Linked DNA regions of Homo sapiens. The protein of the gene in region 1 interacts with the protein of each later gene in a pairwise test. Each region holds a gene or a part of one and is shown in the gene's direction. Other genes may lie near its edges.

What was found. The genes of interacting proteins can lie anywhere in the genome.
Region 2: the proteins of ELOVL5 (region 1) and C2CD2L interact in binary tests that used the Homo sapiens proteins (3 or more experiments, as listed by UniProt).
Region 3: the proteins of ELOVL5 (region 1) and SYS1 interact in binary tests that used the Homo sapiens proteins (3 or more experiments, as listed by UniProt).

What each region holds. Positions count from the first base shown.
Region 1 is NC_000006.12:53,289,944-53,296,965, reverse strand, and holds part of ELOVL5 (very long chain fatty acid elongase 5), read left to right. Parts: intron 1-1,258; 5' UTR 1,259-1,266; coding exon 1,267-1,324; intron 1,325-2,474; coding exon of another isoform or gene 2,475-2,683; exon of another isoform or gene 2,684-2,878; intron 2,879-5,002; coding exon 5,003-5,190; intron 5,191-7,022. UniProt on the Homo sapiens protein: Catalyzes the first and rate-limiting reaction of the four reactions that constitute the long-chain fatty acids elongation cycle.
Region 2 is NC_000011.10:119,110,341-119,117,362, forward strand, and holds part of C2CD2L (phospholipid transfer protein C2CD2L), read left to right. Parts: intron 1-220; coding exon 221-340; intron 341-506; coding exon 507-617; intron 618-711; coding exon 712-828; intron 829-922; coding exon 923-1,034; intron 1,035-1,180; coding exon 1,181-1,289; intron 1,290-1,987; coding exon 1,988-2,052; intron 2,053-2,141; coding exon 2,142-2,269; intron 2,270-2,359; coding exon 2,360-2,534; intron 2,535-3,270; coding exon 3,271-3,372; intron 3,373-3,511; coding exon of another isoform or gene 3,512-3,514; coding exon 3,515-3,648; intron 3,649-3,739; coding exon 3,740-4,025; intron 4,026-5,684; coding exon of another isoform or gene 5,685-5,704; coding exon 5,705-5,916; 3' UTR 5,917-7,022.
Region 3 is NC_000020.11:45,358,582-45,366,174, forward strand, and holds the start of SYS1 (protein SYS1 homolog), read left to right. Parts: upstream 1-4,574; 5' UTR 4,575-4,734; exon of another isoform or gene 4,735-4,787; intron 4,788-4,947; 5' UTR 4,948-4,950; coding exon 4,951-5,112; intron 5,113-7,037; coding exon 7,038-7,105; intron 7,106-7,593. UniProt on the Homo sapiens protein: Involved in protein trafficking. May serve as a receptor for ARFRP1.

The sequences.
Region 1 (7,022 bases):
GATGATTTCGTGGATAAAGTAGTTTATCTTAAAATTAGCCAGTGAATACATAACGCTTCAGTGTGGCAAGCCAAGGAAGAGAAGTATTGCTAAATGATTAACAGCTTAGTTAATAAAATCAGTTCTGCCTTTGCCCTTGGACGTTATAATATTGATGATTATTCCTGTAAGAAGAATGGCCAGGAAAGTTGGAAAATCTAGTCAGTATGCATATGAAAAGTTGATTAGCTACCCTCTAAATGTAAATCTTAAATTGGGGAAGGTAGGGAGCTATAGAATCTTAGAAGATGGAGGTAAATCTTTAACTGGTATCTCAAGATGTTTTATTAAGTGAAAATAAGCAAGTAATATATACACACTTCTATATATAATAGTGTTTTTTTAGTTTTTTTTAACTGTGATCCCCACAGTAAGAATATATTTTACATCACAGCTAAGTACATTATACTTATAAATATGATATAATAAAACTAAAGTTTTATAAAACTATATTCATTCTCACTGAGAGCAAAGCATTCTGATTCTCTACTATGATCAATTATTATTTTTAATGCTAAGTTGACATGATCATCTACTAATGGTAGATTTCACCCACAATTGTGAAAACATCCATTTAGCATGACCTCTTTGTGCTCAAAAGAGGAGAAATCTCTGGAAGTATATTGAAGAAATGTTACCATTAGGTTCCTTGTGATGCGTGGCTTGGGGATTGAGGTTGAGGGAAGTAATGAGATTTTTGCCCCTTTTTTTTAATTTTTAATACTTGAATTTTTTTTTACTGTAGATATGAAGTACTGTAAAATAATAATTGATAAAAGTAACAAGCGGAAAAAACTGTCTTGTCACTGTGGCATTCTGTTCCCTGATATGGCTCTTCCTTGTCTTACCTCAAGTCCTCAGTTGTTGCCCAGACAGGATCTCTTCCTGTCTGCCACCTCTCATTCCAGTTAGTTCCACTTTTTTCCCCACTGAGATTTCAGCTTCACGGAAAGAGTTTTTATGGAACTAAGAAAAGAAGTTCAGAAAACTGGCACTTCATTTATAAAGTGAACTCACAGAATTGTGTCTTTCCTTTTGATCTTCAAGTTAGATCTAGCACAGAAGTCACTTCTGTGAATTAAATTCTTTTAACCTAAGGAACTGAACTTAACCTTGTCTGTAGCATATTCTTTGAAAAGAATTTATTCTTTTATGAAAAAATACTGTATAAAAAACATTTTGAGTAGAGATTAATCAGTATCTTTTTTTTTCTTAATAGGTTTTCAAATGGAACATTTTGATGCATCACTTAGTACCTATTTCAAGGCATTGCTAGGCCCTCGAGGTAAGGTGGTTTTTGGTTTTGCTTACCTTCTGCAGCATCACTCCCTGCCTATAGTCCCTTGTAAATATTGCATGAGGAGATAGTAGAAAATGTTAGCATTTTCTATGATAAGTCTAAAACTTTATCCTGGATAACAAGGAATTTGGAGAAGTCTCTGACAGAGACACCTGCTGTGGGTGGTCCTCCGTTGACTTTAACTGGAGTTTAAAAATATGCTGTAAAGCTTGTAGCCTGAGAATACTATAGATTTCACCATTATCAGTGGCATTTTTTTCTCAATTCTTGGCAGTCTTTAAGAAAAACTAGTTTCCAAAATGCAGTGTTGCAATAGGAGTTTAAAACCTTTCCCCTTTTACAATTTTAAGGGCTTTTTAAGGTCTTCTCATTTTGTATCATGTTAACTCACTGGTAAATATGCACCTGAACCTTACTTGCTGTATCTTTTAGAAAGTAAATCAGCTTCATATTGCCTTCTTTTGATGTCATCTGTAAAAGTCTTTTAAAGTCTTTTGTATAAAGAACTTCTTAGGCTCACAGAAAAACTAGAAATGGCTTTTAAACAGACAAAAAGAATCTCAGTTTCTCATGATTTTTAAAACACAAAAGAAATAACAAAAGGACTTAGTCTATTAACATGGCAGAGATGAAATAATAGGTTTCATGTCACCTATGATAATAGTGATAATAGTGAAGGCGTGGAGAAAGAGTACAACCTCTCTGAAAGGCTGTTTTGCCTTCTGTTGGAATTAAAATGCACATGCCCTTTTGCCTAGCCATTCTACTCCTAATACTTTATCCTGTGGCTAGCCTTGATTAGTTATGCAATGATACATATCAGGATGCTCATTACAGCATTGTTTTTCAAGGAATCATCTGGATGCCTGTCAGTAGGGGAGAGGTTCTGTAAATTAGTGTATGGCCCATTGAAAAGAACAAAAAAGAATAAGTTAGATCCATCTGTATGTGCTTGGGTTGGGATAGTGCCTTACTTTAGCTGTAAGGGACAAAAAATCCAACTCTAAATGGCTAAAATAATAATAATAATTATTAGCTTGCATTACCAGGTGGAGCAATTCCGTAGTTATTTCAGGGACTGTATGATGTAACCAAGGATCCTTGTTCTTGTCATTTTCTACTTTGCCACTTCCAGGTATCAGCAGCTCTGTCCTCAGAATGGGTCCCCCACTTCACACAGTTGTAGGATGGCTACAGCAGCTCCAAGCAGCACATTCAGAGGAAGAAGAAAAAATGTTTCATTTGTGTGGTTTTAAGCATAAAGAAGTTGTTTCCCAGAGCTCTTTGCCAGCTGTCATCCCTCAAAACTCACTGGCCACAATTGCTTCACATGCCCCTGCCTGAACCAGCCACCAGAGGGGGTTAGGACCACCACAGATTGACTAGATCCTAAGGATTCTCTACCTGGGGCTGGAGTTCGGGTCAGGTGCCCGGGAAGCACTGTGCGGTGTGGGAGGATGAATATGTGCCAATTTGGAAAGATGAGTATTTGTGGGAAAATGAATAAAGCAAAGTGTAAATCAGAGGTTTAAGTTAAAATAGGGAGATTTGTGTGTATTTATTGTTTGTGATATATATGTTCATACAAAATAACAGTCTGATGTTAGTTGCTAAGTGGGAACTGGTTTTCTTAAAATTGACAGCCAAGGCCCAAAGCTGAGAACAAAAGGTGTTAAGCATCCCCTTAAAGTCCCTGGGGCCAGCCATTTCCCTGAATGACTTCTAAGCACAACCAGTTCTGCCGGACTGACAGTAACACCCTCCGTGACCATAGCATAACTAGTGGGGAGGGTGTGGAGGGCATGTCCCTCTGAAGCCAAAGCAAGCCAGCCATGAGAGAAATGCTGGGAAAGTTTAGTGTGTACAGTGCAAGAAAGGAAGACTGACTGACAGTTCCCCACGTGGACATATGCTTTATTGAGCCTGTTCTTGTTCTGTGAAATCAAGGTGAAAACGACTGGAGAGAGTAGCAAGATGGTCCAGTCTGGGAGGGGTCAAAGAAAGGGCAGAGCCGGGTGTGGTGGTTCACTCCTGTAATCCCAGTACTTTGGGAGGCCAAGGCAGGTGGGTCCCCTGAGGTCAGGAGTTCCAGACCAGCCTGACCAATATGGTGAAACCTGGTCTCTACTAAAATTACAAAAATTAGCGGGGTGTGGTGGTGTGTGTCTATAGTCCCAGCTACTCTGGAGGCTAAGGCAGGAGAATCGCTTGGACCCTAGAGGCAGAGGTTGCAGTGAGCTGAGATCACGCCACTGCACTTCAGCCTGGGCGACAGAGTGAGACTCCGTCTCAGAATAAATAAATAAATGAATAATAAAAAAATTAAAGAAATGGCAAAGGCTGTCCTCCCAACTGCTGCTTCTCTGAAGACGCAGTAGGTGAATGCTGCATGTGCCTCATGTTCTGGAGTTGTGAGCCTTGGCGGGTAGTTAAGATTGAGGAGCCACAGGTTTTCGGGGAACATCATAGCAGGGTTCAAAGGGGAGCATGCTTTTCAGAGGTAGCTTCCTGGGGTCAGCCAGAGTATGAAGCTGAATCTTTCAGGGGACACATAACACTTAGGGGCTCTGGCTGCCAAGGAGTTTCCCGCCATCCAAGAAGAGGTTGTCAGTTTGCTGCTGGCGGCTGACCTGTTTCCCTCTCCCTCCTCCCTGCCTAAGAAAAGGAATAGGGGCAGGAGAGGCCCTTCCTATACCAGTATCTCCTCTGGATCCGCCTAGGTCTTCGCTCTCATGCTACTACTCCTCAGTTTGTTAAATACTGCCCTTTAAATAGGCATTTATCTGATCATTGCTGCTTCACCTTCATGTTTTGTTTTGTTTTTATTTTCATTTTTGAGACGGAGTCTCACTCTGTTGCCCACGCTGGGGTGCAGTGGTACGATCTCAGCTCACTGCAGCCTCTTCCTCCCAATTTCAAGCGATTCTCCCACCTCAGCCTCCCAAGTAGCTGGGATTACAGGTGTGCAGCACCATGCCTGGCCAATTTTTATATTTTTAGTAGAGATAGTGTTTTGCCATGTTGGCCAGGCTGGTCTTGAACTCCTGACTTCAGGTGATCCACCCGCCTTGGCATCCCAAAGTGCTGGGATTACAGGCATGAGCCACCACACCCAGCCCTTGTTTTGTTTTTAAATCATTGTCCTCTCTGCTGTTGACCATTACACTCATAGCAAAGGCTGCCTTTCTAATTAGTGCCAGTTTCACTAACGTGGCTAAGCAGCACGTTTTCTGAGTCTGCATGTGCTGGCCACACTTGCCGACTGACACACAGCTGAGATGGAGGACTTCAGAGTTCAATGACTGCCATTTCTTGGGTTTTATCACCCTATGTGTAATCTGGTATACCTGGTTAATAAATCCAATTAATGGGAAGTGTAGCCTTCTCCTTGTTTTCTTCTTAAGTTCTTTGGAAAGAATATTTGTATTATTATTTTACTGAGCAAAAATCATGAATAATACATTGTTATTCAGAGCATGTAACAAGGAGCTTCACCTTGTTTGATATGTATTGAAAATCCATGCCTCCTCTCCTGATTGCTTTATTGGAATTAAGAACATGAATACCAGGTGACTTTTATATCATCATGGTTAGAGAAATTTTTTCAACGTTTGAAAAGTTGTGAATGTTTTTATATATCATTAATTTTTTTTAATTTTTCAGATACTAGAGTAAAAGGATGGTTTCTTCTGGACAATTATATACCCACATTTATCTGCTCTGTCATATATTTACTAATTGTATGGCTGGGACCAAAATACATGAGGAATAAACAGCCATTCTCTTGCCGGGGGATTTTAGTGGTGTATAACCTTGGACTCACACTGCTGTCTCTGTATATGTTCTGTGAGGTAAGTCAAAGGTTAACACAGTCTTCCTTTCACATAAATGCACTCATATTGCTGTCCTAAATTGTATTCCTAAATGAGGAAAGGTGGCCGCTTGGGGTGTAGAGACAACTGGGCAAGCAAGTATCTTAATGCGTTATGAGTGTGTTTTAAAATCGATTTTTCAAAATGTCAGAGTTGTTTGTACAAGTATGCCTTCTAGAATATCTAAAATAGAAGCCTTTGTTATTGATTCTTCTATTATGTTTCGTATGATATTCAAAATTAAAGTATTTTCAGAAATACTCTCATGCAAGCAAAATACAGAGTGGAAAATGAACAAAATGTGAAAAACACATGTGAAAGCATTTTATTATTAAGCATCTAATAAGTGCCTGCTTCTTGTTTGAAGGTAGGGGAGGAAGGAAGTGGGTGGCACTTGTGTTTGGTATGTTTTGTGGCACATCACCCTCTCTGATTGGATAACTTGTCAAATCTCAGTTGTTTTTTAAAAGCTAAGAGGAGTGTGACTGGTGAGATCTGCATTTAGGTTTTGAATTGTCTGTCTGAGTTCAGGCCCAGTTATTTTATATCACTGCAATGTTGAAAATCACATTTGATGATCTCAAAGGCAAATGTTATAGCTTAAAAATGAAAGAAAAATCAGAATCAACCCTTCTCTTCTCCCTATTTTGAAGGGGTAACACTATAGCCTTTAAAGCTAAAAGGGGGAGGAAAGCTTCCCTCTGGTGGTAAGCAGTTTGTGTACATTTTTCCAGGAAAGCCTACCCACTTTTCATTCTTACAGCACCAACCTATTTCTAACTCTTCTGGAGAATTAAGCCCTGGATAAAACCTATACAGGCACTCCTGTATAGGTTTTCAGGGTTTCATTTTGGTTTTAGTTCTTCAAGGAGTAGTAAAGAAGAAGGTAGAGGTGGGAGGAAGAGGAGAGATAGAAACATGAATCTTAAAATTAGTGTTCAGGGGTCAAAATGAATTCTCCATCAGCCTCAGGCCATGATGGTGTCTCCCTGTCTACGTGTGGTGGTGTGCAGGAGTGTGGGCGTGTGCAGGCATATTTGATTATCAGAGGTGTTGCAGCTGTGGGATATCTGTGTCTTGTTCTCCCATGTATGTTTCATAAGCCAAGGTACAGATATTCTGAATAGAATGGTAGATGTTCCTAGCATTACTTTTATGCTTGACATGCCAAGAAATGCTTACAACTCCTTTTTTTGCTTTTTTTTCTGTCCTATTCTAGAATGAAGTCAGTTTAATTAGACTCCAAGATGGAGAGTTCAGGACTGGAGCCAGGGGAAGTGCACAGGAGTGACTCCTGGCCCCAGCACTATGCACATTTCTGTGTTCAAGGGACAAAACCACAGCAAGCTGTCAGGTTTCTGAGTGAACTGCTTACTTTTCCATAATTGATAGATAATACAGCCATGTCTTTAAGAGAACTCTTACAGAGTTTATTATTATACATGGCAATATTAATAGAGAAAAATATTTCATGTGATTTTTAGAGAACTTAAGCATTTGCCTTAAATGTTTCTTAAGCCCTAGAAATATAGCTATAATTTCATTATTTATCCTCTCTTAAACAGATGATTCCCTGGTAAAGAGAAGAAAAACACTGTATAAAGTACAGCTGTGTGCATCTGAGTGGATGTGGGGGGTTCTGAACACATTGTAATAGAAGGTACAGATTTTCCTCTGATAGCTTGGTGAGAAGAGAAGACTTTGAGCAGTGACTAAGCACTGAATACAGAAATTTAAGAAATATACAGAATAGGGAAACTACATTTTTAACTCACAGTTTAGAGTACATAGAGAGGTAATAGACAAAGAGG
Region 2 (7,022 bases), on another chromosome or scaffold:
CATTGAAGTTATGTGCAAAATGTTGGATGTGTGTTTATATGCATTTTTCTGGGGAGAGGAGTCTTTGGCATTTATCTGATTCTTTTAGGGATTTATGATCCTGAAAACATGAAGTCCTTAGGAAAACGGAAGTGGGGAGGGGTCTGCTGAACTATTACAGGGCAGTTCAAAGCAGGGTGAGCACCCTTCCCCCACATCTGACCCACCTCGCCGGTCTCAGGTGCTGCGTTGCCAGCTCTCTGCTGAGGAGGTGCGGTTCCCAGTCTCTGTGACCCAGCAGTCCCCCGCTGCCGTCTCCATGGAGACCTACCACGTCACTCTGACACTGCCACCAACACAGGTAGAAGGGGATGTGGGAAACTGAGTTGGGCAGGGGCGGTTCCATTGGCTCAGCTTCTTCCATTTGTTTCCTCTCTGGGATGGAATTCAGGAAGGGAGAGTCCTCGAATTAGGAGTCCTTGGGTAAATGGGGCAAGTCAGCCCAGTCACTTTGTTCCTGTCTGTAGTTGGAAGTCAACCTGGAGGAAATCCCTGGTGAGGGGCTGCTCATATCCTGGGCCTTCACTGATCGCCCAGATCTCAGCCTAACGGTGCTTCCCAAGCTTCAGGCCAGGGAGGTAAGGAGGCAGAGCTGGCAGAGAAGAGGCAGAACGGGGAGGGAGGCAGAGGTGGGGGATCCACCTCCTTGTTGTTCCCTTCTTCTCTCTGCAGAGAGGTGAAGAACAAGTGGAGCTCTCCACAATTGAGGAACTGATCAAGGATGCCATAGTCAGCACCCAGCCAGCCATGATGGTCAACCTCAGGGCTTGCTCTGCCCCAGGAGGCCTGGTGAGTTGGCACCCAAAGCAAAAGATTTGCATGCACCTTGTTCCTAGGGTGCTATGTCAGGATTCTTGCTCTTTGGACCTTCTTCTGCTCTTAGGTACCCAGTGAGAAGCCACCCATGATGCCCCAGGCTCAGCCAGCCATCCCCAGACCTAACCGGTTATTCCTACGGCAGCTTCGGGCATCTCACTTGGGAAATGAGCTGGAAGGTGAGAGCTGGAAGTGGCTGCGGGACTGCCAAGGCTATGGTTGGTTGCAGATGCTCTCTGCCCCTCTGCCAAGGGTACAGCCTCTTTATTCTGCAGTGACTTCCCATCTCTGATCTGAGCATCTTCTAACTTCTGGTTCATCACAGGCACCGAGGAACTGTGCTGTGTAGCTGAACTCGACAACCCCATGCAGCAGAAGTGGACCAAGCCCGCGAGGGCTGGATCCGAGGTGGAGTGGACAGAAGACCTGGCACTGTAAGGAGTAACCCTGCCCCGACCCCATGCTCCAGAGCAGAGAGGATCAAACCTTTCCAGCACAGTCCTTGCAGGAATCAGCTCTGTTTTCAGTAGCCTTTGGCGTGAGCTCCTATTGTATGCCAGGCCCTGGCGTGGGTCTTAGGGATACAGACTTGACCAAGATACAGCCCCCACCCCTGGGTCAATGACAAGCTTGAGGCAGAGACAGGTGTACATAAAGAAGATGGTAAAACCGCTCCAGTTGAGGTTTATGTAATGTGCCGTCAGAGTGCCTAGGTGGGGGGGAGATTAATTCCCATGAGGGAATAAGGATCAGAGTAGGCTTCATGGAGGAGATGACATTTAAACCACACTTTAGAGCAAGAGTAGGATTTCATCAGAGTGTGAAAGTATTCTCGGCAGAGGGAAGAGCTGGAGCAAATGAAAGAGGGTGGCTTGCAACTGAGAGACTGGCAAGACAGGAAGAGCAGGACCAGGGAGGATTTGAATGCATAGCTGAGAAGCATGGTTTCCACTCAGGCCCTGTCCCTTTCTCTTGGGACGAGAGAGAATTTGGAGGCCAGGAGAATCTGATTGGAGCATTTATGCCGTTTTATTTATGTACACAGCTCTCTGCCTCTGGCCTGTGATCCACTCAAGTGTGGGTTCAGCTTGCTAATTTTCTCCTTCCTGCCCCATCTCCTCTTGTCCCACAGGGATCTGGGCCCCCAGAGCCGGGAGCTGACCCTCAAAGTGCTGAGGAGCAGCAGCTGTGGAGACAGTAAGTGAGGGGTGGGAGGGGCACCCCTGGGTGGGTACAGAGTGGGGTCTGGCCATGGGCCCAGCTCACAGTGCCATCCCTTTCCCCAGCCGAACTCCTAGGCCAGGCCACACTGCCTGTGGGCTCCCCCTCCAGACCACTGTCTCGAAGACAGTTGTGCCCACTCACCCCAGGGCCAGGGAAAGCCCTGGGACCAGCAGCCACCATGGCAGTGGAGGTGAGAAGCTGACCCCTGGGGTAGGTGGGAGGACACAGGGGATGGGCAGTCTCCGAGGCTCTGTCTCTTCTCTCTCCCACCCCTGGGCAGCTTCACTATGAGGAGGGCTCTCCCCGGAACCTGGGTACTCCCACCTCCTCCACTCCACGCCCCAGCATCACACCTACCAAGAAGATTGAGCTTGACCGGACCATCATGCCCGATGGCACCATTGTCACCACAGTCACCACTGTCCAGTCCCGGCCCCGTATAGACGGCAAATTAGGTAAAGAGAAGGAGCCTGGGAGCCCAGCTCTAGCCAGGGGCCCGGGACTGCAGACCCAAGGCAGGACAGTGAAAGAGGAGAGAGCCTTAATTCCAACTCCCCCTGTTTTCAGACATTCCATTCCAGTCCTACCACATCTTCCTCCCAATCTTTGTCTCTTCCAAACTTTCCCTTACCTCCTGCCATTTCCCCAGCAATTCCTCTCACTCTGCCACCCTTCTGGATCCTCCTGCCCCTCCTCATACAGGACTGTTGCACTCCTACCTTCCAGCTTCCCCTCTGGCTTTTCACAGGTGTCCTTAGCCCCAGCTGACTATAATTGTCCATCCTGCTACCCTCAGCCCTCCAGCACCCCCTGGGGTCCTCCAACAAACCCAGAGGCCTCTGTGGCATTTCTACCCCACTCAGTGGGCCCCCATGGCACTTCTGCCATTATAGGGGCCCCACTGAATTGCCCCAACTTCAGGGAGCCCCAGTACCCCCTCTGTCCCCGCTCCATATTTTCATAGCATCTCCCCACACCTTCAGCAGGCCCCATGGCACTTTCCTACACTCCCATTAGCTCCTGGGGTGTCTTTTAGTCCCCACGGCATCTTCCTAATCACCCTTGTGATTAATCACCCTTTAATCATTCTTGCCCTCTGAGTCACCCAAAGTCTGCATCTCAACAAAGACAGTAGGGGTGGGGGCCACTCTGAAGCAACTCCCAGCTCACTGACCCTCCCCCACCCACCAGACTCCCCCTCCCGCTCCCCGTCCAAGGTGGAGGTGACCGAGAAGACGACAACTGTGCTGAGTGAGAGCAGTGGCCCCAGCAATACCTCCCATAGCAGCAGCCGTGAGTGGGGAATGGGGTGCATGAGTGTGGGTTGGCCCTGGTGCCCCAGCATCAAAAAGTACTCTGGGTGGGATAGGAGGAGTTCCAATCCAAGAAAGAGCCAGGGAGAAGTCAGGTTATTCATTCTCTGCACCCCTAGCAGGGGACAGCCACCTTTCCAACGGCTTGGACCCTGTAGCAGAGACAGCGATTCGCCAGCTGACAGAGCCCAGTGGGCGGGTGGCCAAGAAGACACCCACCAAGCGCAGCACTCTCATCATCTCTGGTGTTTCCAAGGTAACAGGGCTCTGGGGAGAGGAGCTGGGATGGGGAGAAAGCCCTAATGGGTCGGTCACTCCTGCCCATTAAAACCCGTCCCTCCTGCCAGGTGCCCATTGCTCAGGACGAGTTGGCGCTATCCCTGGGCTATGCGGCATCCCTGGAAGCCTCAGTGCAGGATGATGCAGGGACCAGCGGAGGCCCCTCTTCACCTCCCTCAGACCCACCAGCCATGTCTCCAGGACCGCTAGATGCCCTCTCTAGTCCCACAAGTGTCCAGGAAGCAGACGAGACAACCCGTTCGGATATTTCTGAGAGGCCATCTGTGGATGATATTGAGTCGGAAACGGGGTCCACTGGTGCCCTGGAGACCCGCAGCCTCAAGGATCACAAAGGTAGGGGGACGTTGGCAGGGTGCCCCTCATCTCTTCTTTTATACACATATCATGACCTGGGGGACCTCGAGCCAGTGTGCCTTCTCCTTCCTCCCCTAAGAGATAGCCGGATTCCCAGCCTAGTTCAGCCAAGCTAGCCTAGAGGGGGATCTTGGTGCCTTGGTTCCTGGCCTAGATCTGACATGCTTGTGATAGGAAGGGATGCCAAATTATTTCCCTTTACCTCCATTGTTCTTTCTTCCTGAGTCTAAGTGCCATTTTTCCTGCCCTTTAAAAAAAAATTATAAAAATTTATTCCTAGGCAGGGTGTGGTGGCTCACACCGGCACTTTGGGAGGCCAAGGCGGGTGGCTTACCTGAGTCCAGGAGTTCAAGACTAGCCTGGGCAACATGGCGAGACCCCATCTCTACTAAAAATACAATAAATTGGCTGGGCGTAGTGGCACACACCTGTAATCTCAGCTACTCAGGGGGCTGAGGAGGGAGGATTCCTTGAGCCTGGGAGGTTGAGGTTCAAGGAGGTTGAAGCAGTGAGCCGTGATTGTGCCACTGCACTCCAGCCTGGGTGACAGAGTGAGACCCTGTCTCAAAAAAAATTTTTTTTTTCCATGGCTGGGCACGGTGGTTAATGCCTGTAATCCTAGCACTTTGGGAGGCCAAAGCGGGTGGATCACAAGGTCAGGAGTTCAAGACCAGCCTGGCCAACATGGGTAAACCCCATCTCTACTAAAAATACAAACATTAGCCAGACGTGGTGGCAGGCGCCTATAATCCCAGCTACTTGGGAGGCTGAGGCAGGAGAATCGCTTGAACTGGGGGGTTGGAGGTTGCAGTGAGCCCAGATCATGACACTGCACTCCAGCCTGGGTGACAGAGTGAGACTCTGTCTCAAAAAAAAAAAAAAAAAAAAAAAATTCTTCCCTTTCAATCTGCACCCTCTCCCCAATGAGTATAAGAAATCCTACCCTTGGATTATCCATCTGGCAGCAAGACAGGCAGTGACCAGTGGTGGTAGTTCTTCTAACTTTAAAAGATGAGAGGCTCACCCTAAAACATCTTCATTCCTCTACCAGTGAGACTATCAACCATGGATCTATCTATCTATTTTTTAAGCCTGCATCACTTCTTGAGATAATGAGGTTTCTACCTCCAAAGCCTGCTGGGTGAGCACCTTGCTCATTATACTGGTTCTGAATTTACCTCTTTGAAGTTTCTAGATGCACCACTTCCTGCTCACAGCCTGGAATTCGGTTAACAAGTCAGTGTCAACCTACCTTTCCCTTCATGATTTATAGACTTTTGGGAGTACCTTCTGGTAGCTTTTGTCTTCCCATAGGAAAGAGGCCCAATCCCAGTTTGTCCTCACAAAGCGGCCAGCTCCGTGATATCTCTTTTGCGGGCAGAGTTAAGATTGTACACAGATCCCCACAAGTACCACGATTTTTGCCTCAGGAAGGATAAAGCACATGTTTGTTTCTGCTTTCGTTTTCTTTTTTCTTTTTTTCACGAAGCCTTATGGAGAAGTATGTTTCTGCTTTCTTTCCTGAGGAAGCCTGGCTTCTGGGCCACGGGACTGATCCTGTCCACATCCTCTTTCCCTCCATTCTCCATCGTGTCTCTGCCCCCGTCTCACCCCACCCCGTGCCCCTCTCTGCCTCAGCTTCCCCTCTTCCCCTGCAGTGAGTTTCCTGCGCAGCGGCACTAAGCTCATCTTCCGCCGGAGGCCTAGGCAGAAGGAAGCTGGCCTGAGCCAATCACACGATGACCTCTCCAACGCAACGGCCACGCCCAGTGTCCGAAAGAAGGCCGGCAGCTTTTCTCGCCGCCTTATCAAGCGCTTTTCCTTCAAATCCAAACCCAAGGCCAATGGTAACCCCAGCCCCCAGCTCTGAGGACCCAGCTCTGAAAGGGCACGAGTTCTCTCAGCCCATTCCCCACCTCCCCTTCCATACCCCTTCCTGGATCTCCAGTGCCTGGGCCAGGAAAGCCCTCTGGGTTCCGGGAAGCCCCGTCCACCCTGGGCCATGGGGCCGGTTGGAAGGATACTTGGAACGGGAAGCACATGAGAGGTGGGCACCCGGTGCCGAGGACATGGACGAGGGACTGGTGGCTGGGAGGGAGAGGAGGGCCCTGTCCGGCATGTGTGGGTATTCCCCAGAAGCATTTGCCTCCTGCTGAGCCTGGTCCCTGAGCGGAGTCCCAGGGTGCTCAGCTCTTCAGCTGACCCTTCTTCCCTTATTTATTCTCTTTTCTATTTATATGTGTGGCTTAGGACCCTCCGTGAACAGATGATAGAGGGCATCTCTCCCAGGTGACCCTTCTTTTCTGTCCCAGGAGGGTGGGTAATTCCCTTTGGGATGGGGCTCCCACACCTCCCTCAGGTCCCCACTCAGACCAGCACCAGTGTCTGCCTCTGAGAATGTTGGCAGCTCACAGAGAGCAGGGCCGGCCCGGGATGGGGGGCAGGTACTCCCCACCTTCCTGCCTCCCCTCCTGCTCCTCATCCCTCCCTCCCCCTTTATTACCGTTTTTTGTACTTGATGCCTTCTCTGTGAGCAGTGGCTCTGTGGGAAGGAGGGAGCCGGGAGCCTGGTGGGAAGCCTTCCCCAGAGAGATGGCTTTAGGGGCTTTATTTAAAGACTGTGATGATGGAGCCACGCAAGGCTGCACCTCTGTGTGTTGGGAGACGATGATGATGTCCATTGCTGTGTGATGGCTTGGAATTTAATTTATTAAAGTCAAATTGGAGTTTATAAACTGGACAACTGGTTATCCTTTGAAAGGCAGTAGGCAGCCAGGCTGTGACATGGATGGTGTGGGAGGATGAGACAGGGGCCCGGATAATGAGGTTGGGTAGATGACACACATTGTGGATCTGCTAAGAAGTTCCTGCAGGGAAGAAGGGGTGTGCAGAGAAAGGATGGAAGAGACAGGAGGCTCTGGAGTATGAAATTGTAGCAAAAAACTCAATCAACTAGTACAGGTTAGTCTTCATTCC
Region 3 (7,593 bases), on another chromosome or scaffold:
ACAGTAGGGGTGAGAGGAGGAAGAGAAGGTATCACATTTAATGTGCTCTTACTATGGGCCAGCCACCGGGCTTGACTTGTCTGATACATTGTTAGATCCTTGCCATAAATCTGAGATCAGGCATTTCCGTTCCCACATTCCAGAGGAAGAAATAATAACAATCATATTAACATTGCTGAGGTTAACATAGTGCCCACTGCATATCAGGCAGTGGACTAAGCACACATTTGACCCTCAGGACAGCCCATAACATGGGTACTATTCTGAACTCCACTTTATAGAAGAGGAAACCAACTGAGACTCAGAGACATGAAGTAACTTTCCCAAGGTCACCCAGCAGGACAGCAAGACAGCCAGAGAGCCAGGATTCGAATCTAAGCAGGGCTCTCAAGCCTATGGGCCTATGGGAGAACATTTCCCAAGGGATTTATGGGGGTGGATCCAGAAGGTGACCTTAGCGATTGTCCTTACATGCATGCAGTGGGGCCCCAGTGTGAAAGTGACGAAAGAGACCAAGTGACCAGAGGCACTCCCCTCCCCTCCACCCAAAGGACAGTTTGTCCCAGCTTGTGGCTTTTCGTCACTCTGCCTCTGACCTGAAGTTTAACATTTCATTCATAAGTTTGGAACCACAGACTTGGCAGCGTAGGAAGAACCCTCGTAGACCAGCTAGCTATTCAAATCCAATCCCCTCATATTACAGATGGAAGAAAACCCTGAAGCCGGAATGTGACTCGCCAAGGTCACAGAGCAGTTTTCTGTTGGATGAAGGAGCCGGTTTAGGGTCAACTACAGATCATCTTGTGCTGTAGTTATCAAATGTGGGTGCACCTCTGAATCACTTGGGGAGCTCTCTAAATACACAGATTTCCACACTCTGCTTTGGGAGACTTGAACTGGACTTAGGTTTGCAAACAAGGACTGGAAATTTGAATATCCAGTATGTTCCTCAGGTGATTCAGATGGCACAGGGCCATGACAGCATCTGCAAGTCGGAGTCCAATGTCCCTCTTTCATTTGATAGTTTGGGATACTGGGACCCACCAGGGGACTCGCCCAAGGTCACATAGCAAGCCAGTGGGGCTCTAGTTCAGACTCTGTGGTCTGAAGCAGACTGCTTGTGGTCAAATTTGAAAATGGGCCAATGAAGCTAAACAAAGGGGTTGCCATGATTTTCCCCAGCTCTTGGTTTCCTTCTTGGATCCAAATTAAGACGGAGGATGATGTACATTTCCGAAGCTTGGCAAGGCGGGAATCCAAGAACTGAACTCCCAAAGGGGAAAGGAAAGGGCAGGAGGTTAGCTTGCACGCCCAGTGGGGTTTTCCCAGAGGTGAGCTCCGGACTCCAGGGATGACATCAGACATTCCAGCCAGCCCTAATATCAAAAGCTACCTGTGTTTTCTAGTTCAGCAGAATGGGTAGGCAGGGCCTTTCCTATTGGGAGGAGATGGGGTGGAGTGGGCCCAGCTGTGACGTGAAGGGAGCAGAGCCCAGGAAGAGCCACGCATTCCAGCATCTGCAAGGAAGACAGCTGCCCTGGGTATTGTCAACCTCTGCAGCCCTTTTCTAAGCCTTTCCTCCCATTTCTCCCTAATCCCTCACCCCAGGGCTAACTGAGCAGAGAGATTCACTGCCCCTTTTCCACTTCCTGCTACTCCACCACCTATTTTACTATCTCCCTTCCTTTATTTCCCTCTCCCTCCCTCCCTTCCTCCCTTCTTTCCTGTTCTTTTATTCTAAAATGGCATCTTGGCTGGACACAGCGGCTTATGCCTGTAATCCTAACACTTTGGGAGGCCAAGGTGGGAGGATTGCTTGAGCCCAGGGTTCAGGACCAGCCTGGACAACATAGGGATACCCTGTCTCTACAAAAAAATAAAATTAAATGAAAAATCAAAAAAGCCAAGTGCGGGCCAGGCATGGTGACTCATGCCTATAATCCCAGCACTTTGGGAGGCTGAGGCGGGCAGATCACTTGAGGTCAGGAGTCCAGACCAGCCTGGCCACAATGGTGAAATCCCATCTCTACTAAAAATACAAAAATTAGCTGGGCATGGTGGCACACACCTGTAATCCCAGCTACTCAGGAGGCTGAGGCATGAGAATCGCTCGAACCCGGGAGGCGGAGGTTGCAGTGAGCCAAGATCATGCCACTGCACCCCAGCCTGAGCGACAGAGCAAGACTCCGTTTCAAAAAAAGCCAGGTGTGGTGGCACATGCCTGTGGTCTCAGCTATTCGGGAGGCCGAGGCTTGGGCCTGGGAGTTTGAGGGTGCAGTGAGCCATGATTGCGCCACTGCAAACCAGCATGGGTGACAGATTGAGACCCTGTTTCAAAGAACCAAACTAAACCAAACCAAAACTAAACTAAAAGTCATCTTGATGTTTGGAGTCAGTTGTCCTGAATTTGAATCTCAGCTCTGCTCCCTGTGAGCTCTCTGACCTAGAGAGTCACACCACCTCCCCCCAAGCCTAGTTTCCTCCCCTATAAAAAGGGGACAATAGCTATATTTTCAGATTGTGAGAATTAAACAAGATCATGTAGGCACTTAAGAAACAGATGTTTTCTCAGAAACACTAGATCATGTGCATAATCAGTGAACTAGAGGAATTTGAATACATATTTGTTGGACTGAATTGAGGTGCCTAAAAGAATGGTTGAGCTGGAAAGCACCTAAGAAATCTTTGGGCCTTAATAACTCCCCAACTGGAGTCCAGGGGAACTGTTCAGGGTATTTCCAAATGATAAGGACAATCGCACACTCTCAATAAAGTCTCAAGTTTCTTTACTTTTGTCTGGAATTGTATCAGCTCAAGGTGATAACACGGCTACCACAAGCTGTTCAGAAATTCTGATTGGCAGTTACATGGCTCTTTGATACGTTTTTTTTTTTTTTTTTTTGAGACGGAGTCTCGCTCTGTCGCCCAGGCTGGACTGCAGTGGCGCAATCTCGGCTCACTGCAAGCTTCGCCTCCCAGGTTCACGCCATTCTCCTGTCTCAGCCTCCCGAGTAGCTGGGACTACATGCGCCTGCCACCAGGCCCGGCTAATTTTCTGTATTTTTAATAGAGATGGGGTTTCACCATGTTAGCCAGGATGGTCTTGAACTCCTGACCTTGTGATCTGCCCGCCTCAGCCTCCCAAAGTGCTGGGATTACAGGCATGAGCCACTGTGCCCAGCCTAAGTTTTTTTTTTAATGAGAAAATAATTACTGGAAGGTAGATTAAATGGTGGAAAACGTTAATCATGTCCAACTCCTCATTTCATAAACAGGGAAGCTGAGGTTTAAAGAAGGAAGTGGCTTGCTGGTCACACTGGGTGGCATAGCTGGCCCTAAAACCCAAATTCTTTTCCTGGAACAACTTACTTCCCGTCTTTCCACTTCAGAGAGGGGGAACCTAGGATCAATGAAGTTGATGGGTTTTCGTCTGCTGGAGTAGGAATAAGTGAGTTATCGATTTGCTCTTGCTTTTTCTGTTCTTAACTCATTCAGCAAATATTTACTGACTGTCCACTATTCGGATTTGGAAGATAGATAAAACAGTCATGGCAGCAGAGAGGGTCAGGATTTACTCCTATGTGCGACTTCAGAACCTGTGCCTTTTTCCACTGGACACCCACATTTTAAAACACCCACTACTCTGCCTTCTAATATAGTTCATCTGTGTCTCAGGGCAGGGGCTGTCTTATATATACATGTTCTAGCCTTCCTGCCACCGAGTAGGTGCGAAATCAATGTTGTAGTGTTGAGGAAACACTTGAATTTTATTTATTTATTTATTTATTTATTTATTTATTTAGAGACGGAGTTTTGCTCTTGTTGCCCAGGCTGGAGTGCAATGGCGTGATCTCGGCTCACTGCAACCTCTGCCTCCCGGGTTCAAGCAATTCTCCTGGCTCAGCCTCCCGAGTAGCTAGGACTACAGGCGTGCGCCACCACGCCCCGCTAATTTTGTATTTTTAGCAGAGACGGGGTTTCTCCATGTTGGTCAGGCTGGTCTCGAAACACCGACCTCAGGTAATCCGCCCACCTCAGCCTCCCAAAGTGCTGGGATTACAGGCGTGAGCCACCGCGCCCGACCAACACTTGAATTTTAATACTTACTTTGCTACTAACTGTGTCGTTGAAACAGTATGTTGCTTTCCTTCTCTGGCCCTTAGCTTAACTATCTGTACAGCGGGAACATTGGCAAACTCCTACGTGGAGGAGCTTGCAGGTCCACTTCAAGTTATCAGACTCTAACTAGGAGAAAACATTGAGAATTTAGGCTGAAAATAACGACACAGTTTATCACCTCGTTAATTCCCAAACATCATTACCGCGTCCTAAGCCACCCCACTTGCCTCTCCCCTAGCCGCCTTCCTTTAAAAAAAGAATTCCCCTCTAGAGGGCGCGCAAGCTCTGCGGCCTTCGTTCCTCTCTTCCGTTTGCCTTCACTCTTCCTTCTGCGCATGTGCTCAGTTCGCTATCCGGCTGCTTGTACCTGGTTCAGGAGGTTCAGGCAGAGGTTGCACCCACTACGCCTGCGCAACCTCAGCCCCGCCCCTCCGCTGCTTTCCCCGGAAACGTTTCTTTCCTACGCAGCCGCTCCTGCCGCCGTGGTCGCTGGAGCTTTGCCTCTCTAGGCCGGCAGCGCCTCTCCTCCATGGTCCTGTCTGTCAGCGCTGTTTTGGGAGCCCGCCGGTGAGGCCGGGCCACGCTCAGACACTTCGATCGTCGAGTCTGTCACTGGTGAGTAGACCCCAGAGGAGCTCGTGTACGGGCGGGGGCCGCGCAGGCGGAATGGGCTGGATTTCCCCTCACTCTGAGAATGGGTCTGTCTGCCCCGCCTTCCCCCTGACTCTTGGAATGGGCTCACCCCTTGGTTCCAGTCCCTCCTCCCGGGCGGGGCGACGTTGCCATGGAGACAGGCCGCTGGCTGAGGCCCGGCTCGTGTCCCTGCAGGGCATGGCGGGTCAGTTCCGCAGCTACGTGTGGGACCCGCTGCTGATCCTGTCGCAGATCGTCCTCATGCAGACCGTGTATTACGGCTCGCTGGGCCTGTGGCTGGCGCTGGTGGACGGGCTAGTGCGAAGCAGCCCCTCGCTGGACCAGATGTTCGACGCCGAGGTAGGGTCCCCGGACTGGGGCGGGTGGGGTCTCGGCCTCCCCGAGTAGGCTTTGTGGTCCATCACTACTGTGCTGTAGACGTGGCTGGGTCACCTTCTTTCTTTGTAGCCCTGGGAAAGGGATTTCACCTTTCTGAGCCTCAGCTGCCTCATCCATAAAATGGAATGACAGCAGAGGCTGATTAGTACAAAGAAAAGGGCCTGGATGTTAATACAATAAACACGTCTGTGTTCCAGGCAACTCTGATACATTTCCTTTCTGATACTCTGGGAAAGTGACTTGATTTCTCTGAGCTAGGTTCTCAGGTGCCACATCGGAGAGAGGGGTGGATAAAAGAGCATTCGTGCGGGTACAGTGGAAACTGCCTGGACTTTGGGGTCAGACAGGCGTCCGTTTAAGATCCACTTACTAGCTGTGTGACCTGGGGCAAATGTCACCTCTGTGAACTTGTTTTCCTGTCTTCAAAACCATGAGACTAGTTGCAGAGAGGTCGTGGACTGCAATATAAAGAGCATGTGCTTTGGGTTCAGAAAAGCAAGGGTTCAGTCTAGGCCTAAACATATAAAACTAGCTGTGGGACCTTGGGCAAGTTGCTTCCCCTTTCTGAGCCTTTTCTGAAAAGTGGGCCGGATGCTCCTACCATGTTGCCCTCAACAAAATGTTACAAGGCCCAGAGGGGTTTAGGAATAAGAAGGTACTTTGTAAAGTGTAAAGGAGGCCTATAAGTTGTTACATCTAAGAGGCAGCTGTGGCGTGGTGATGAGCACAGTTCTTTTTTTTTTTTTTTTTTTTTTTTGAGACGGAGTCTCCCTCTGTCGCCCAGGCTGGAGTGCAGTGGCAGGATCTCGGCTCACTGCAAGCTCCGCCTCCCGGGTTCACGCCATTCTCCTGCCTCAGCCTCCCAAGTAGCTGGGACTACAGGCGCCCGCCACTACGCCCGGCTAATTTTTTGTATTTTTAGTAGAGACGGGGTTTCACCGTTTTAGCCGGGATGGTCTCGATCTCCTGACCTCGTGATCCGCCTGCCTCGGCCTCCCAAAGTGCTGGGATTACAGGCGTGAGCCACCGCGCCCGGCCGAGCACAGTTCTTAAAGCCAGGAGACCTGGGATGGAGTCCTTGCTCCTGCTGCTTGTTCTCTGTGTTAGCCCTTGGGCAAGTTATTATCCAAAAAGTGATAAGAATTAAAAGAAGAAGAATGGCTTTGTGAGGTTTTTTTAGGGATAATATGAGATTATGTATGTCAAAGACCTTTCTTTGTCAGCTGAAAGTGTGGTGCAGATGTTTGGCATTTGATAGTATTGTGTTGGATAGTGGAGGTTGCACACCCACCATATGCCTAGTTGTAGTCTCGTAGGAGACTCTATGCTCCTGGGAAGAGCTGTGGGAATGCCAGGCTTTGTTGAAGAGCCATATGATGCACACAACCTGAGTTCTAGCCTAGGGATCAGCAAACCTTTCCTTTAAGGGTGAAGTAGTAAGGATTTTAGGTCACAATTATTCAGCTCTGCCATTGTAGCACAGAAGGCTGCTATAGACAAATATATAAGTGAATAGGTGTGGCTGTGTTTCAATAAAACCTTATGTACAGGAGCAGATGCCAGGCCTATGGAGCCATAGTCAGCTGAACGCTGTTCTAGACTTTACTCTTGTTGTTTATTACTTTGGGCAACTTAACTTGTCTGAGTTTTTACGTCCTCCTTTGTAAAATGAGAATAATCCCTTTCCACCTGCTGTGAGAAACAAATGAAATCCCATAATGGATGTCTATGAAAGCACCTATTGGAAATAGGCTGCCGTACAGATGTAGGGAGGTATTATCTTCTGTGCTCTGGGAAGAATGCTTGTTCCTTAGGAGGCTTGCTGAGATCCTGGGGCTCTGCCAAGTCACTTCTCCAGTATATTTCCATTTGTGATTCCCCCTCAGATCCTGGGCTTTTCCACCCCTCCAGGCCGGCTCTCCATGATGTCCTTCATCCTCAACGCCCTCACCTGGTGAGTATCACCAGTTTTGCTATCCAGCTTTTGGGCTCTTAGTGCTGGGACTAACTTCCTAAGTTTGAACATGAGACAGGCTGGCACTTGTTTCTGGGGAGTGGTGGAGTAAAGTGGGTGACAGAGGCCAGTTCTGGGACCAGCTGTATAATGGGCCTCCTTCCATTGCTGTTTTGACTTACCTGGAAAGCTCTTATGTCACTATGTTTGTGCTGCCTGCAAGACAACTTCCATCTCAGATAACTTCCCTGATGTGGAGTGAGCTGAGAAAGGATTCGACCGAGAGGCAGGAGAACTGGGTTCTGTTCTTGGTTTGTGTGCCATTGGCCAAGTTACTTGCCATGGGCCTCAGGCTCCTCTTTTGTCCATGAGGGTTTGGACTCAGTGATGTCTAAGGTCACACGTAATCATTGCCTGTCTCTTAAGAGGCAGTTTAGCATAGTGGTCAAGGTGTCAGGCTCTGGAGGCAGACTCATTTGGCATTGAAC